2 separate regions of the Homo sapiens genome follow, and region 2 is linked to region 1. The links come from fine-mapping of genetic effects on gene expression. Tissue or cell type: whole blood. Region 1 holds a variant in brackets; the other region holds the start of a gene. All regions are shown on one strand. Distances are from middle to middle.

Region 1 (8,000 bases):
TGTGTGGCTTTTATTGCTGTTTGTCATTGTCACCTGTCTTGAAAACAGAGTTCATGTCTTATAGTTCTGCCTCAGCTCAGGACGGCTCTGCACATGACTTAGGCAGCATCCGCCCACACAGTCAGCCCATGCAGCCTTGGGCTGGTGCTAGGGGCTCTGAGAGGCTCACCCCAGTCCCAGCTGGTGGTCTCTGTGGATTCCCCAGCCAGATCAGGCAGAAGTGTTTGTGGTTTGCCCTCCCTGTCTGCCCCCAGCCAGAATTCCAACCTGGCCAGTTCTAAAAGCTGAACCGTGAAGACTCAGCCCTGCCTGGAGCAGCCTTCCCTGGAGCCTGGCTGACTGCACCCACCAGCCGTCAGCTCTGGCCTAGAAACTTAGGGGTCCTGGAGACAGCAGGTCCTGCTACCTCCCTGTCCTCCATTCAGCCTAAATGTCCACCTCCTCAGGGGCCTGCCTTCAGCTCACCTGCAGACCATAGAAGTCTCCCTGCTGTGCACTCATCCCCTGCGCTTTGGCACTCCCTACTCCGCCCCAGGTGTTCTGCAACATCGGTAGCATGACAGAGGGCTTCTTAGAGAGAGGGCGCCCTTGCTACCAGGGTCCACAGGCTCAGTCTCAGCCTGGTTCCTGTTTGTGGTGCCCCTTTCTCAGGCCTGTGGGGATGTCAGGAGCTTAGGACAGCGCCGGGCTCAAGAGATGTGGCTACCTTCCCTCCTGCTTTCGGTACTCAGCGCAGGCAGGGTTCAGTGCAGCAAGTAACAGCTGTGGCTTACTGGATTGTCTGCAACCATTGGCGACTGAGAGATCCCTGCAGCCCTCCCAGACCCTCGATCTGACTGGAGCCAGGCCCACGTGGGGAAAGGGTTAAACGTTGGCAGTGACTTCACCCCTGCATTGGAGCAGGCGGAGGCAGAGTAGGTAAAAAAATCAGGACAGAGGCTGGTTGGAATTTTCCAGCGTTCATAAACAGGACCAGTCAGGGTTGCTAAGGGAGGTCACCATGGAAACGGTCACGTGCGCCTGCCTCCTGGTTATTCCACCCTGGTCAGGAGGATGATGCAAGCTCCGAGCCTCTTCATTGGCTGCCACCTTCCTCTTGCCACCGAAATCTGGTGGGAGATTGGCTGAGGACAGTTGCTGGGCTGGAGCTAGCCTTTCCCTTTCTCCCCCATCCCTCCCACAGGAACCTGCTGGAAGCTGTTCTGAACCAGAGAAGGATGAAAATAGCTGCCAAAGATGTTGCCATAGCAACTGCTTTCCTTCCTGACCTCCTTGGAAGTTAGTAGTTGACTTTGCAGTTGAAGTACTTTTCTGAAGGCAGAAGAGGCTGTCAGCCATTTTATACTGACCTAACTTTCTTCTCTTGAAGGTGAACTCCCTCATTTTCCAGAGTAGTCAAGGAATTTCTGTGCCTCTACCCATGGCTTTGGTTACCAACTCATCCCTGGGGGCCTTGGTTTCTTTCTGTGAAATGGAATATTCATTCCAGCACTCACCACCTTCTAGGCTGGAGTAAGGCTCCAACTTTGCAAATGCTGTTAGTAAACTGTAGAGCTCCGTGCACTTCCACGTGTCTTTACTTGACCAACACTGACACTCCCTTGGGCTAATGGCTCTATAAATTGGAGGATGGGGCAGCTGACTTGTTCAACAAGCCCAGAGCCCCAGGACAGAGGACCCCTTTGGAGTTTGATTCCTGTTCTGTCACCAAAAGCCCCTGGGACCTTCAGCAGGTCACGCAGGCCCCCAGGGACTCATTTTCTCCTGTAAAAGGACGCCTCTCTAGTTAACTCAAGAGGCCCCTTCCAGCTCTGACATTCCATGACCCTAAGTTAAAGGCCAGCCTGCTTTCCGTAATAAATCTGTGGAACTTACCATCCATATAGGAGGTGAAAATGCAGCTATGCTGCACTGAGTCCTTTCTACATGGCAGGCACTGCGGCACATGCATTCACTGAATTTTCACGGAAGATAACTGTCATGATTACAGCACCTACCCATTTTACAGATGAGGAAATGGAGGCCCAGAGAAGTTAAGTAAACTTGCTCAAGGTTGCACAGCCAGTAAATAGCAATGTCAAGACTTAAAGCCTGGTGGTCCAGCAGCTAGTCCACACAGCTGTCTTTCTAGGTACTGACTAGAATGACGAAAACAACATGGGTCAGTTCATAGCAGGTAAAACGTTGAGTGGAGCAAACCCTGGACGAGGCACCAGCAGCCCTGGGTTCTACCCTAGGCTGTGCCATTTAAGTGGCACCCTGTTACCTCCAGCAAGTCACTCTTCCTCTCTTTGTCTCAGTTCTCTCATCTGTAAAAATAAGAAGTTAACCGGCTGGGCATGGTAGCTCACGCCTGTAATCCCAACACTTTGGGAGGCCGAGGTGGGCAGATCATCTGAGGTCAGGAGTTCGAGACCAGCCTGGCCAACATGGCGAAACCCTGTCTCTACTCAAAACACAAAAATTAGCTGGGTTTGGTGACATACGCCTGTAATCCCAGCTACTTGGGAGGCTGAGGCAGGAGAATCGCTTGAACCCGGGAGGCAGAGGTTGCAGTGAGCCAAGATCGTGCCATTGCACTCCAGCCTGGGCGACAGAGTGAGACTCCATCTCAAAAACAACAAAACAAAACAAAAAATAAAAATAAATAAATAAGAGGTTAACCCAGATCTCTGAGGGCCTTTCTGCACTAAACACTCTTAGTCTTTGAGAGAAAGCAGCCCAGAGAAGACAGGTGCCAGCTTGTCCGAGTCACAGAGTGAACAAGCACAGCCTCACTGGCTACCCACTAGCTTTGATCTCAACCTTTGAAACAAACAAGGTTTGGGAAGGGTTGTTTGAACCTAGGGCCCGTGAACCAGAAACAGTCCCTGGGAGCGTCGGCTGTGACTTTTCCAGAAAACTAACTACATCCCATTTTAAGAGGGTCCTTTATTCAGAGATTAAGCCTGTGAAAGGAAAATAAATCTTGGAATCCCAAAATCACTAAGCCAAGGGAAAAGTCAAGCTGGGAACTATGTCAGGCAAACCTGCTTCCAATTTTATCCCTAAATAAGATAGCTACAAAGATTTATTAAAAAAAAAGCTACATGCCTCCCTCACAATTTGCCCACAAGGAAATTCCTTGTGGACAAAGGACAGACAGAACTCAAAATCATCCCTCCGAGGCTCACGTGAGACTAATGCATATCGGATTGCTTCCCCTGACCTCTGATTTCACTAAACCAGACTAAAGCAAAAGTGACTACTCCTCTGCCCTCCTCTCAAATGTAAATTGCGTATTAGGTGAAAGGCTAATCAGAAACTCAAAAGAAAAGAGTGCAACTCTTTGTCTCTTATCTACCTCCCGAGGCTGTGTCATGGGTGTGTCCTTAACCTTGGCAAAATAAACTTTCTCTTTTTTTTTGTTTTTTGAGACGGAGTCTTGCACTGTCGCCCGGGCTAGAGTGCAGTGGCACGATCCCGCCTCACTGCAACCTCCACCTCACAGGTTCAAGCAATTCTCCTGCCTCAGTCTCCCAAGTAGCTGGGATTACAGGCGCCCGCCATCATGCCCAGCTAATTTTTTGTATTTTTAGTAGAGACAGGGTTTCACTATGTTGGGCAGGCTGGTCTCAAACTCCTGACCTCAAGATCCACCCTCCTCAGCCTCTCAAAGTGCTGGGATTACAGGTGTTAGCCACCGTGCCCGGCTGGCAAAATAAACCTTCTAAATTGGTTGAGACCTGTCTCAGATATTTTGGGTTCACAAGCCCTTCTTGTATCTTTGATGTTATAAAGACTTTTTTCTTATGAAACGGTGGTGACAGTGCAGGGTAATTTTGTTATAATTTTGTATTTGGGAAAAGTTGGCTCACCGTTTGTCAGTATTTCCAATACTTAAAGATGTTTTGTTATGGAAAATTTCAAACATAAAAAAGTAAAGGCCAGGCGTGGTGGCTCACATCTGTAATCCCAGCACTTTGGGAGGATGAGGCAGTCGAATCACGAGGTCAGAAGTTCGAGCTAACCTGGTCAACATGGTGAAACCCCATCTCTACTAAAAATGCAAAAATCAGCCAGGCCTAGTGGTGCATGCCTGTAATCCCAGCTACTTGGGAGGCTGAGGCAGGAGACTCACTTGAACCCAGGAGTCGGAGTTTGCAGTGAGCCAAGATCACGCCACTGCACTCCAGCCTGGGTGACAGAGCAAGATTCCGTCTCAAAAAAATTCTCAAAAAATAAAATAAAAAGTAAAAAGAATAGTTTAGGGCCAGGCGCGGTGGCTCACGCCTGTAATCCCAGAACTTTGGGAGGCTGAGGCGGGTGGATCACCTGAGGTCGGGAGTTCGAGACCAGCCTGACCAACATGGAGAAACCCCATCTCTACTAAAAATACTAAATTAGCCTGGCATGGTGGCGCATGCTTGCAATCCCAGCTACTCAGGAGGCTGAGGTAGGAGAATCGCTTGAACCCGGGAGGCGGAGGTTGTGGTGAGCCGAGATAGTGCCACTGCACTCCAGCCTGGGCAACAAGAGCAAAACTCTGTCTCAAAAAGAGAGAGAGAAAAAAAGAATAGTTTAATGAATCCCCATGTTATTCATACCCAGCTCCAACAGTTACTAACTCCTGCCACTTCCCTTCCATCTAAACTCCCAATCCCTTGAAGGGGATCAGAATATCTCAGCCCCACCAAATGCTACTTTGGTATAAGGATAATTCTGAACTGAGGCATTTGAGATCGGACAGATGCAGAGAGAGCCTTTCTGGAACTTTCCTTATCTGACTACAAGCAAAAACTCCTAGAAATGAGGACTGCCATAAATATCCTCTTCCAGGAAGGTTTATGGTCATGAAGACAGAAAGTCAGGCCAGGCACTGTGGCTCAC[G/T]CCTGTAGTCCCAGCACTTTGGGAGGCCGAGGCGCGCGGATCACGAGGCCAGGAGATCAAGACCGTCTTGGCTAACACAGTGAAACCCCGTTTCTACTACACACACACACACACACACACACACACACACACACACACACACACAATTAGCCGGGTGTGGTGGCGGGTGCCTGTAGTCCCAGCTACTCGGGAGGCTGAGGCAGGAGAATGGTGTGAACCCAGGAGGCGGAGCTTGCAGTGAGCCGAGATCATGCCACTGCACTCCAGCCTGGGCGAGAGAGCAAGACTCCGTCTCAAAAAAAAAAAAAAAAAAAAAAAAAAAAAGGACAGTCGGCACTGAGATGAAACTGCACAAACAAATCTTACTAAATTCAGAGTGATCTTCCACTAGTTTTCCCCATATATTTACCATCCCACGGTTTTGTAGCCCCCAGAAGCTTAAAACCGTTTTCCCTTTGCCTTGTCACATCTTCACGATGTACTGCTATCTTGAAAATGATATGTAAGCTCTCAGGCCAGGCAGTAAGAGGGTGGAAGAAAGTGTTTCTTCTTTCTTTGTAACCCCCATTACCTGGAGTATTTTGAAACAAACCATAACTATTTTTATTTTCTTTTTTTTCTTTTTTTGAGAAGGAGTCTCGCTCTGTCCTCCAGGCTGGAGTGCAGTGGCATGATCTCGGCTCACTGCAAGCTCCGCCTCCCGTGTTCACGCCATTCTCCTGTCCCAGCCTCACGAGTAGCTGGGACTACAGGCGCCCGCCATCACGCCCGGCTAATTATTTTTTCTTTTTTTTTTTTTTTTAGTAGAGACTGGGGTTTCAACGTGTTAGCCAGGATGGTCTCGATCTCCTGACCTCGTGATCCACCCGCCTTGGCCTCCCAAAGTGCCGGGATTACAGGCGTCAGCCACTGCGGCCGGCCTATTTTTATTATTTTTTCAATTTGCAAAACAATTTTTATATAATCAAAATCCTATTAGCATTTTCACACCTAAAAAAATTAACCGGGGAGCCTCTCTGAACCTATTCTGGTTCAAGGACTGCCTGAAAACAAAACAAAACAAACAGAAAACTTTTTTTTAGTATTAATCTTCAAATACACAGTTTGCCTCAATATTTTTTGAGAGTTGGTTTGTTCAATCAGGACCTAAGTGGAATCTGCACATTTCCTTGGATTTCCATGTCTCTTAAGATTCTAGCATACTCTATAGGTTTCCTCTCCCCACCTTTTTTCCCCCTGAAATTTATTTGCTGAAGAATCTGGGTGGTTTGCCTTTGGAATTTTCCACATTCTGGATTTTGCCCATCATATCCCTGTGGTGTGGTATGACATAGTCTTCTGTTCCCTCTGCATTTCCTATAAACAAGTGATTAGATCTAGAGGCTTGATCCAACCTGGGTTCCCCTTTCTTTTTTTTTTTTGAGACAGGGTCTTGGTCTGTCACTCAGGCTGGAGGGTAGTAGCACAATCATGGCTCACTGCAGCCTCAGCCTTCCAGGGTGAAGTGATCCTCCCACTTACCACAGCCTCTCAAATAGTTGGGACTACAGGCGCACGCCACCACCAAGCCTGGCAATTTTTTTTTGTATTTTGTGTAGAAATGGGGTTTTACAATGTTGCCCAGGCTGCTTTTTCTTTTTCTTTTTCTTTTTTTTTTTTTTTGAGATGGAGTTTCGCTCTTGTTGCCCAGGCTGGGGTGCCATGGTGCAATCTCAGCTCACCACAACCTCCACCTCCTGGGTTCAAGCAATTCTCCTGCCTCAGCCTCCCAAGTAGCTGGGATTACAGGCATGCACCACCACACCCAGCTAAGTTTTGTATTTTTAGTAGAGACAGGTTTTCTCCATGTTCGTCAGGCTGGTCTGGAACTCCTGACCTCAGGTGATCCACCTGCCTCAGCCTCCCAAAGTGCTGGGATTACAGGCTTTTTTTTTTTTTAAAAAAGAATATTTTATAGATGATGTTGAAGTCATTCGATTAAAAAAAATGTAAACCAGAAAGCCGGGAGCCACACTTCTCTGATGGGAATTCAGTACATCCATTCCTCTTTGGTTTTAGCCATCGCCCCTGGGTCTGGCCAGAGCCCCCACAAAGCTCTTCTGTAGCCTTGCAGAGCTGCCCTTGCTGAGTCATTCCTTGGCATCCCACTCTCTGCTGATGCTGCTGATTTGGATGCTCAGTGAACAATGCCCTTAGTTAGGAAAGCTGCAGTCTGTTCTCATCAGCCACCACATCCCTATATGGAGACCTGTATGAGAAATTCCTTAGATATTAACTGCCAGCAAAAAATTTCCTTTCTCTGAGGAACTGGGATGCTTTTTCCCTAGAGGCAAGAAGAATCATGCAACTACCTTTGTTCCTCTTCCTTTCTCTTTGGCTCACAGAAGCTCAAAGCAATAACTGAGGCACAACTCTGGCAGTCGTACAGGACTCTGGCCTTTTTCCTTGGTCTTATCTTTTAGGTATGCATGAATTTTCTCTGCTTGATTCTTATTTTATTTCATATTTATTTATTTATTTATTTTTGAGACGGAATCTTGCTCTGTCGCCCAGGCTGGAGTGCGGTGGCGCAATCTCAGCTCACTGCAAGCTCCGCCTCCCGGGTTCATGCTATTCTCCTGCCTCAGCCTCCCAAGTAGCTGGGACTACAGGCACCGGCCACCACGCCCGGCTAATTTTTTGTATTTTTAATAGAGACGGGGTTTCACCGTGTTAGCCAGGATAGTCTCAATCTCCTGACCTTGTGATCCACCTGCCTCAGCCTCCCAAAGTGCTGGGATTACAGGTGTGAGCCACCACGCCCGGCTTATTTTTATTTTTATTATTATTATTTTTTGAGACAGAGTCTCACACTGTTGCCCAGGCTGGAGTGCAGTGGCACGATCTCGGCTCACTGCAACCTCCGCCTCCTGGGTTTAAGCGATTCTCCTGCCTCAGCCTCCCAAGTAGCTGGGATTACAGATGCACGCCACCTCGCCTGGCTAATTTTTGTATTTTTAGTAGAGATGGGATTTTGCCATGTTGGCCAGGCTGTTCTTGAACTCCTGACCTCAAGTCAGGATCCGCCCACTTCGGTCTCCCAAAGTGCTGGGATTACAGGTGTGAGCCACCGTGCCTGGCCATCTCTGCTT
Region 2 (8,000 bases), 91 kb before region 1:
AGTGAGGCTCAGCTCAGCCTGCACCACCTTCACTGACTTTGGCTTCAGCCGCAGCCTCACTGGGACTTGGACAGGCACGGGCCCTGCATGGCGGGCCAGGTCCACCTCGGCCGTGGCCAGCACCTTCCGCTGCCCCTTAGACTCCTGTGGGCCAGGGGAGAGACCAGGAGAAGGGGCATCAGTGCTGTCCCAGGGTCCCCAAGATTCCAGACCTGAGCCCACTCCAGACACTCACATTTTCAATAATAAATGTCCACTCTTTGGCCTCATACTGGTCCACGTGGGGGTCCTGGGAAGAAGGGTGCTGGTGAGTACAGGACTGTTGGGGCAGCAGCAAAGGGAGCAGAGCTTGTCTGGCTCAGGAGGTGCTTGGTAGTGGTGGCTTTTTTTTTTTTTTTGAGACGGAGTCTTCCTCTGTCGTCGAGGCTGGAGTGCAGGGGTGCGATCTCGGCTCACTGCAACCTCTGCCTCCCAGGTTCAAGCAATTCTCGTGCCTCAGCCTCCCAAGTAGCTGGGATTACAGGTGCACGCGGTGGTTGCTACCTCCTCCTGGGATGCACCCCAAGTTCTGGTCCCAGCTGCCTCTCATGCTGCATGTGTTGGGTAAATGCTGCCTCCTCCAAGGAGACCTCCTGGGCCAGTGATGCTGAGCAGGCCCCCCTAATTCTTGGCCTCACCCCCCGCATCCTCTTCTATCTGGATGAACAACCTACCAGGAGACCTGTGTTGCAATTGTTGCAACTGCCTGTGTTGCAATTGCCATCCATGCTGGAGGGCTAGAGACTCACCCTGTAGAGGGTCACAGAGATGTCCACATTCTCAGGTACCATCCACACCACGGTGCCCCGGTATGGGTTCTGGATGCCCGGCTGCCAGCTGTGGGCCTACAAGGGACAATCTGAGTCCTCCCCCCATCTTAACTCTTCCCTCCCACCTGCACCCCCTATCACCAACCTTGACACCATCTTCCCCTCCCCTCTGTGGATTCTGATCTGTGCTTGAACCTCACTCCACTCCCCCATCAGCCCCCATCAGCCTCCCACCGGCCCCCATCCCTAACCTGGATCCCCAGTTGCCATCCTTCCCCACCTTGGAGCAGATGCGTCGGTTCCGACGGGTCCATACCACCACCAGCTTATCTGGCTGCCTGGGGGAGGGGGAAGGGGAGGGAGAAAGGGAGCAGGCTGCTTGGTCAGGCTCACCTGCCTCCCCATCTCCTCTTCCTCCTCCCCCAGCTCCCTCAGGGTCTTCCTTCTGCCCACCTCCCCCTCCTCCAGAAGAGGGCCTGGGCAGCCCCTTATCTGGGGCCACAGGGTGCAGGGTGGAGCTGCTAAGGTAGGGTGGGGCCAGAGCAGAAGGGCAAAGGCCCAGACAGTGTGGGCAGGCAGGGACTATGAGGAAAGACAGCAAGTGAGAAAGGGACAGGCACATACAGAGACCAAGACACACAGAAACACAAGGACCTGGCAAGAGATGCCAGACACAGATGCACATGTGAGCATCGTGCACACACGCAGACTCCAACACAGGGAGAGACAAAGACGAGGGATAAAAGAAGTCCCTTCGCACAAAGATGTTTGTGGAGCGCCCACCATAAACCCAGCCCAGTTTTGGGGACAGAGGAGGGCAAAAGAGAGACAAGACCTTTCCGGTGAGGACAATGGAGGTGGGGGCAGACTACCAGTCAAGAAGGAAAATAAATTAACAAGCGAACTCCAGGGTGATGTGAGGGAACCCCTGGGGGTCTCCTTGAGGTTGGGTGTCTGGGCAGAGATGAGTGGCAGGGGGATGGGCTGTGTGAGGATCTGGAGAAAGAGGGAATGGCAAGTCCAAGGGTCTGCGGCTGGAGGGTGACATCAGAGAGAGGGGCAGAGAGTTGGGGGTGAGGCCGGAGAAGCAGCAGAGGGTCAGCCTGTCATTAACCAACACCGCCATCCCTCGCCCACCATGTCCAGCCCTTTGCTGGGCGCAGGGGTCCCAAGGAGGATCAGCTTTCGGCAAGATGATGACAGTGGAGCCTGGAGGGCAATCAGAAAAGACTTCCAGGGGGTGACATCTAAGCTGAACAGCATATGCCAGGTCAGACATGGAGGAGAGGCAGAGGCAAAGCCAGAGGACAGAGATGGCTGCGCAGGGCCCATTCCCAGGCACTGAGTGGACTCATGGCTGGGCCTGGGGGCAGAGGGCCCCTTGGGGTTAGATGTTCAACTGCTGCCCAGGAGGGGTGATGCTTGAGGGGACGATCCGGCCCAGGGCAGCACGCGAACTGGCCTTGCCTGTACCCAGCCCCATGCCTGCACCCTCTCGTGATGCTGGGGTTTGCCCAGCTCACTGTTCGTCTGAGGCCAAGCCAGGATAAGTGCCTCTCTGTTAACCCTGAGGATGCTGAGGCCCACAGAGGTTTGGAGCCAAACAAGTTTACACGGTTGAGCCTAGAGCCCTCCAACCCAGAGCCAAGTTCCCTTCCCCAAGCCCAAATTGCCAGCGATGGCAGAGCAAGGGTAACTAAGGGGCCTTCCCAGAAAGGGGAAGCGGACAGGGGGTGCCTAGGGAGGGCAGGGCTTGGCTGGGCAGCCTGACTCAGGCTGGGCACGCCCTCCTGGGAAGCTGCAACCTGGGCAGGGGCAGCTTCCCGGCCTGGGCTCCAGGCTAAGCAGCCCAGGAGGCCCTACCCACAGCCGCCTGTGACTCAGCTGCGTTGACACTGCCGGCACCCTCAGCCTGCTGTGCCCAGTGTTTCCCTGGCCTCCCGCAGGATGCTGGAGCAGGAGCCAGAGGCCAGAGTTCAAGTGCCAGCCCCCAAGCTCTCCCAGGCTCTGCTGAAAGATGTGAATGGCCCTCTAGCAGGCCCAGTGTGGGCAAGGCCAAGGATATGGCAGCTGCCCAAGGGACCCCAGCCTCCTGCTTACTCCCCTCCCCCTGGACCCCATGGTCCCTTCCTGCCCCAGCCCTTCCCCTGGGGAGCCTAAATTTAGCCCCGCCTGGCGGGTGAGGCCCCCACAGCTGTGCCCTAATCCAGCCAAGGGAAGCTGACACCAGCAAGCACGTATATTTAGGGTGTGACGCAGGGGCCTGGGCAGCTATGGGTGGCGGCATGTGAACGAGATGCCCCTGAACCTGTTGGTAGTCCAGGCTGGGGCCTGCACCCTCTGGTGAATCACCCCTCACCCTGCCACCTTGCCCTCCGCAACCCTCTCCTCCCGGACCCACAACCTCCTAGGTCCTCAGGCCCCTTTAAGCTGCTCCCCGCCTCCCTCCTCAATCCTCCCAGCACTCAGTTTCCCCTTTTAAGGACATTGTGGAGATGTTTCCAGCCTCCCAGCACTCTGGCTGAAGAGGCGGGAGTTGGAGGGGTTCTTCTGGCTCAACAAGATGGCAGGGGAGGAGGGGGCAACATCTCTGTTCTTAGCTGGACTAAGTAAGGTCAGGGAGGCTCCTGCCCCAGCCCTAGCCACCTGCAGACCTCAAAACTTGATCCCTTTTCCAATGCCACCCTGAACCACCTTTCTGGCACAAGACATGCGGCCTCCCTCCCCCAGCCCTGACCGCAGCTGAGGAAGGAGTGGACACAGGCAGAACCTCAGGCCTGAAAGTCCTGACCCCCGCGCAGGGAAGGCTGCCCACGCCCCCAACTCCAGGGGTCCCACAAATTGCAAGGGCACTTCTGAATCTCCGAGCCTGGGAACGGAACCAGGGCCCAAGCTGGGGTGGGGGCCCATTTGGTCATTGGGCTGGGGGGGCAGAGTCCTCTCAGGCTCAAAGGGCCGGATGAGGTCCCAGCAAGTTCGGGGGAGCCCCCCCGCCTCCCTCCCACTCACCATTTCTTGGTGCACTCCAACACTAGCTCGTGGTAACAGGCCACGAACTGGAACTTGGCCGCCCGCTTGCCCACGCGCTGCAGGCGCTTCCACACCGAGGTCATGGCCCCCGCCACCCCGCCGCCCACTTCTCAGGCCCGGGGCTCCCGCTGGCCCGCCACCGCTGGCCCGGCCCGGGTCCCCATGGCCTGTCCGCGCCGCCCGCCCCGTCCGTGCGGAGGTGTCCCAGGCTCCGACCCGGGACCGCGCTCTCCGCTGCCGCCGCTGGGGCCCGCAGGGTGGTCTGGCTGAGTCTGCGGGGTCGCCTGGGGCGCGTCGGGTGGCGAGCGCGGAGCTGGGAGCGCGCCGTTTCCTGGAGCCGCACCCCCGTCGGAAGGCGGGCGGGGCTCCGGCGCGGGGCGGGGGCCGGGGCAGGAGCGCGGGGGCGGGGCGACCCGGCTTCCGGGGCCTCGCGCCGCGACCCGGGAGCGGGAGCGGGGGCGGGGGAGGGGGGCGTGGAAGGGGTGTCGCCCGACCGCAGTGCCCGCTCGGTGCGCGCAGAGGCTGCGTGGAGAGAGGGCAACCAGCAACTTGGTGCCACCCTAGAGAGCGCTGCCCGGGCCGCCTTCCTTCCTGCCCGCAGCCCTGGGAGGTACGTACTACTGGCCCCCTTTCAACGGCTGGGAAAACTGAGACCCAGAAAGGGGAAGGGACTTGCTCAGAGTCATACTGTGAATGTGGACGAGGACCAGCTCTCAACTCCAAGGTGCAGCCACCCACGTCTTAACCAGAGCAGGAAGGCGTCAGTAACCTCGGTGGCCCAACCTCAGAACCTGACTCTGCTGTCAAGGGGGAAGATAATCCCAAACCCCGACAAGTAGCTGGAGAATCATAACTGACCTCCAACCAAGTGTGACTTTGGGCAAAGCGCTAACACTCTGAGCCTCAGTTTCAACGTCTATTAAATGGGGATAATTGTAGTTCCGCCTTTTAGGGAATCCCTGAGAGGATGAACCTCAGAAGGCATTTAGCAGAAAGCCTGGCTGATTTTGCCATGCCTCCTTATTAAATGGGATGCGCTATAATGGATGGGGAAAACGTGTCATTTTTGTGTATGTTTACTCTCCCTCCCCAGGAAAGCCTGCCTGGAGCGTTAGCAGCTGTGAACCCCTAGATTAGAGCCCTTATCGCCTACCCACCCGCCCTGCATGGTAATGAGCCTCTGCAGGTGTCAGCTGCCCTGGGGCAATAGGTCAGTTTGTTCCTTCCCGCTGCTCTGCAAGGTGTGTAAATGGACAGGAGCCCGGTGCGTGACTGCTACTTGGTTTAACGGGATGTCTGAGTGCCAGGACTGCCATCTGGGCTGCATCTCCAGGAGGCAAATGGCTGCAGCAGGGCGCGGGGATGTGCTGTTCGTCCGCACACCTCGGTGTGCGGCTTCACCTCTTTTCAGGAGGTTGTGAGGTGTCGTGTGCGCGTGTAGGGGGCTGAGTACCCACTGTCTCCGAACGTGCTGGCTTCTTCCGGTGGGCTTGACAACTGGGTTTGGTTCTCAGTCCCAGCGGTGTGGGTCCCCGGTTTCCTAAGAAACCTTCCACAGATAACTGTAAAGACCGCTAGTGCTGTGGGGAGAGCCGGCGGTCTTCACAGACTGAGCGGGGAATACGGGTCCCTGGAACCCCAATCAAACTTCACCGCCGCGGAGTCTCATGCTTGGCCTCCGGGAAGGCCCGAGGTGCCGCGACTTCACTCCCCTCGGCCTCTGCCACCCCTCCCTCCCACCCGCGGGGCGTGAGGTCCCAGGCCGTTCCCGGAGGCGCCTCCCCCGCCCCCGCCGGGGCCCCTTGCTCCGGCGACTCCGGCCACCCATTTCCTGCGCCGCCTCAACCCCGCCCCGCGCGGGGTGGAAAGTTTCCCTCCTCAAGGTGGGCGGCTCCTTCTCCTTCCTTCCCGGCAGGCAGGGAAAGCCCGAAGCGAACTGGGAGGAGGGAGCGGGGGACTCGGAGGTCGCGGGCGAGAGAGGGGAAGTGACTCGACCGCAGTCACCCGGCGGCTGAGCCAGGCTCGGCCAGCAGGCAGCGCCCCCAGCCCCGCCCCGGCGGGACGGCAGGGCCTTCACTCGGCGCGGGGCGGGGGGGGAGGGGGTCTCGGGCGCCACCTGCTGGCAGAGCGCGGGGCCGCACCTGCCACAAACACCGCGGTCTTCCCGCCCCAGAGCCAGCCAGGCAGAGCACAACGACGCTGAGTGTATTTATTTATCTACGCGCCCTGGAGACCGGCCCCTAAATTTAAATATCCAGCACGGGGCCTTGGCCCTCCTGGCCGTGGGTGGTTATTGGGACGGGTCCTGGAGCCCTTCCAGGGCAGAGGAACCCAGAGCCCGGAGGTGGGATGCCCCTGAGCCAGCAGCTGCCGATAGCAACAAAAGGTGAGGAGGAGATGGGAGCCAGGCACTCATCCCAATCCCAGAGACGCCAAGCGGAAGGGAAGATGCTTCGGGCCCCACCGCAAGGCTGAGGGTTGGCCAAGCTGGGGGTGCACACATGTGGAAGAACTGGAGGCCCAGTGCCATGAGCAGAGGCTGTACCCTAGATGCCCGCCCCAGTGCCAGCCAACCCAAGACAGGAGAAAGAGTTTGGCAGTTTCGCCTCTGAGGAATACATGCCTGGCCCTCCTGTGAGGTGAGGCGGTAGGGGGGAAGGCGCAGGCTCCGAAGTCTGAGGGCTTGCCGGAGGGGGAGTTTCTGAGCCTTTTGCATGGGTGCATGCCCCCTGCCCCCCAGCCCTTCAGAGGCTGATGTGGAAGGCATCCTGCAGCCACTGGTCACGGGCATTGTGCGTCTGGGGCACAGTAAGGGGTGGCGGGTCAGGAGGCAGGCTGGCATCGGGAGGCTCCTCGTCGTCAGACAGGCCCGCATCCGGTGGGTAGGAGCTGTCCGAATGGAGGGAGGATGACAGGTCCTGGCAGAAGCTCAGGTCTTGGCACAGGTGTTTGTAGTCCTGGATTGACTCGTACAGGCCCCACAGCTGGCACAACAAGGACATGTCCAACTGCCGCAGCCCCACCTGCAGACAACTGAGGGTGGGCTGGAGTTGGGGTCCAGGCCACCCCAGCCCAGCCCCGCCCCCTGGAATAGTGGGCCCCAGCCCATCTTCCCCGCACCTTCCTAAACGAAGTTTTTGTGGACATCAGGCACCACCTGCAAGCTATGCAACTTTAGTCATGACCCTCACCCAAAAAATGGGGTTATCCATTTAGCCGGATGAAATGAAGTAACGTCAGCAAAACATTTGAAAATATATGGTAACTACTGCCATAATTGGTAACTATCACTAATTATTGTTACCATAACCCTTGCAACCCAACTGGTGCCTGCAAGTCCTCTGAGACCCAGGCCGCCTGTCCCAGTCCCCTGCGTTCCTCCGCGTCAGCCCCCCGCCCAGCTGGCCCGGCGCCCACCCACTCACCATCTCCTTGCGCAGCGCGGCCAGCGCTGAGTCGAGGTTGACAGGACGACGCGGGCCGGCTGCGGGTCCCGCGTTGGCGGCGCCGGCGGCGTGGCGGGGCCCGTCCGGGGCGCGGGCGGCGCGGCTCAGCTCGTCGTGGATGCGGCTGCGCTGGCTGTAGACGCGCTCCAGCTCCCGCCACGAGCCCCCGCTCGCATTAAGGAGGCCGCTGAGGCCGCGCGGCAGCGGTGGGAGCCCGGCCAAAGCGCAGCCCGCCCCGCCCGGCGCCTCTGCCGAGGGCAGCCCGTTCATGGCCGGGGCCGGCGCGGACGGCGATGCCACCTCCTTCCCTCCAACGCTCCGCCCGGGCCGCCGCCCGCAGGCCCCGCACCCCGCGGCCCCGCCGGAGCCCAGCCGCCGCCCGCAGGCCTCGCTTTGTTCCTTCCCCAGCTCCTCAGACTCCGCCTCTGCCCCACCCCCTCTGGATGGGCCGGGCCTCTCTTAAAAAGGCAACGGTTGTGGGACCACGTCGCGCAAAGCTGAGAAAAGGCAACGGGACATCCACTCACTCAAGGGGAGATGGAAAAATGCGGCGGAGGGGGGAAAAGGCTGAAGGGGGCAGGCGTGGTTTCTTCACGGTTCTTTTTGCTACCCCGTCTCCCCGCCGCGCCCCGCCCCGCCCCCACACCCAAGGAAAATGATCTAACAGTGGAGTCAGGAGACTGGCAAGTCCACACTTGGTGCCTAACGTGCCACC

What was found. PIP is the estimated chance that this variant, and not a neighbour inherited with it, causes the effect.
Region 2: EHBP1L1 starts here. The variant in region 1 is fine-mapped to the expression of EHBP1L1 in whole blood (TOPMed, PIP 0.91).

The regions. Positions count from the first base shown.
Region 1 is chr11:65,480,804-65,488,803 of GRCh38, reverse strand. It overlaps LINC02736 (long intergenic non-protein coding RNA 2736), which reads left to right and starts at 718. Exons shown (of 3, transcript NR_187301.1): 1 at 718-914; 2 at 1,184-1,278; 3 at 1,370-1,896. RefSeq lists enhancers at 227-898, 952-1,246, 899-1,570, 1-1,571, 6,716-7,310. The variant G/T (reference allele first, on the strand shown) is at 4,870.
Region 2 is chr11:65,572,225-65,580,224 of GRCh38, reverse strand. It overlaps EHBP1L1 (EH domain binding protein 1 like 1), which reads right to left and starts at 4,172. Exons shown (of 19, transcript NM_001099409.3): 1 at 3,819-4,172; 2 at 1,090-1,147; 3 at 789-884; 4 at 236-289; 5 at 1-144. The coding sequence starts at 3,922. FAM89B (family with sequence similarity 89 member B) reads right to left here and starts at 7,687. Exons shown (of 2, transcript NM_001098785.2): 1 at 7,265-7,687; 2 at 6,035-6,862. The coding sequence starts at 7,555. The coding sequence ends at 6,584. LOC124902692 (a long non-coding RNA gene) reads left to right here. Exons shown (of 2, transcript XR_007062731.1): 2 at 1-269. RefSeq lists silencers at 2,553-2,847, 3,898-3,997, 4,058-4,117, 4,128-4,547, 5,568-6,087 and 1 more and an enhancer at 5,058-5,197.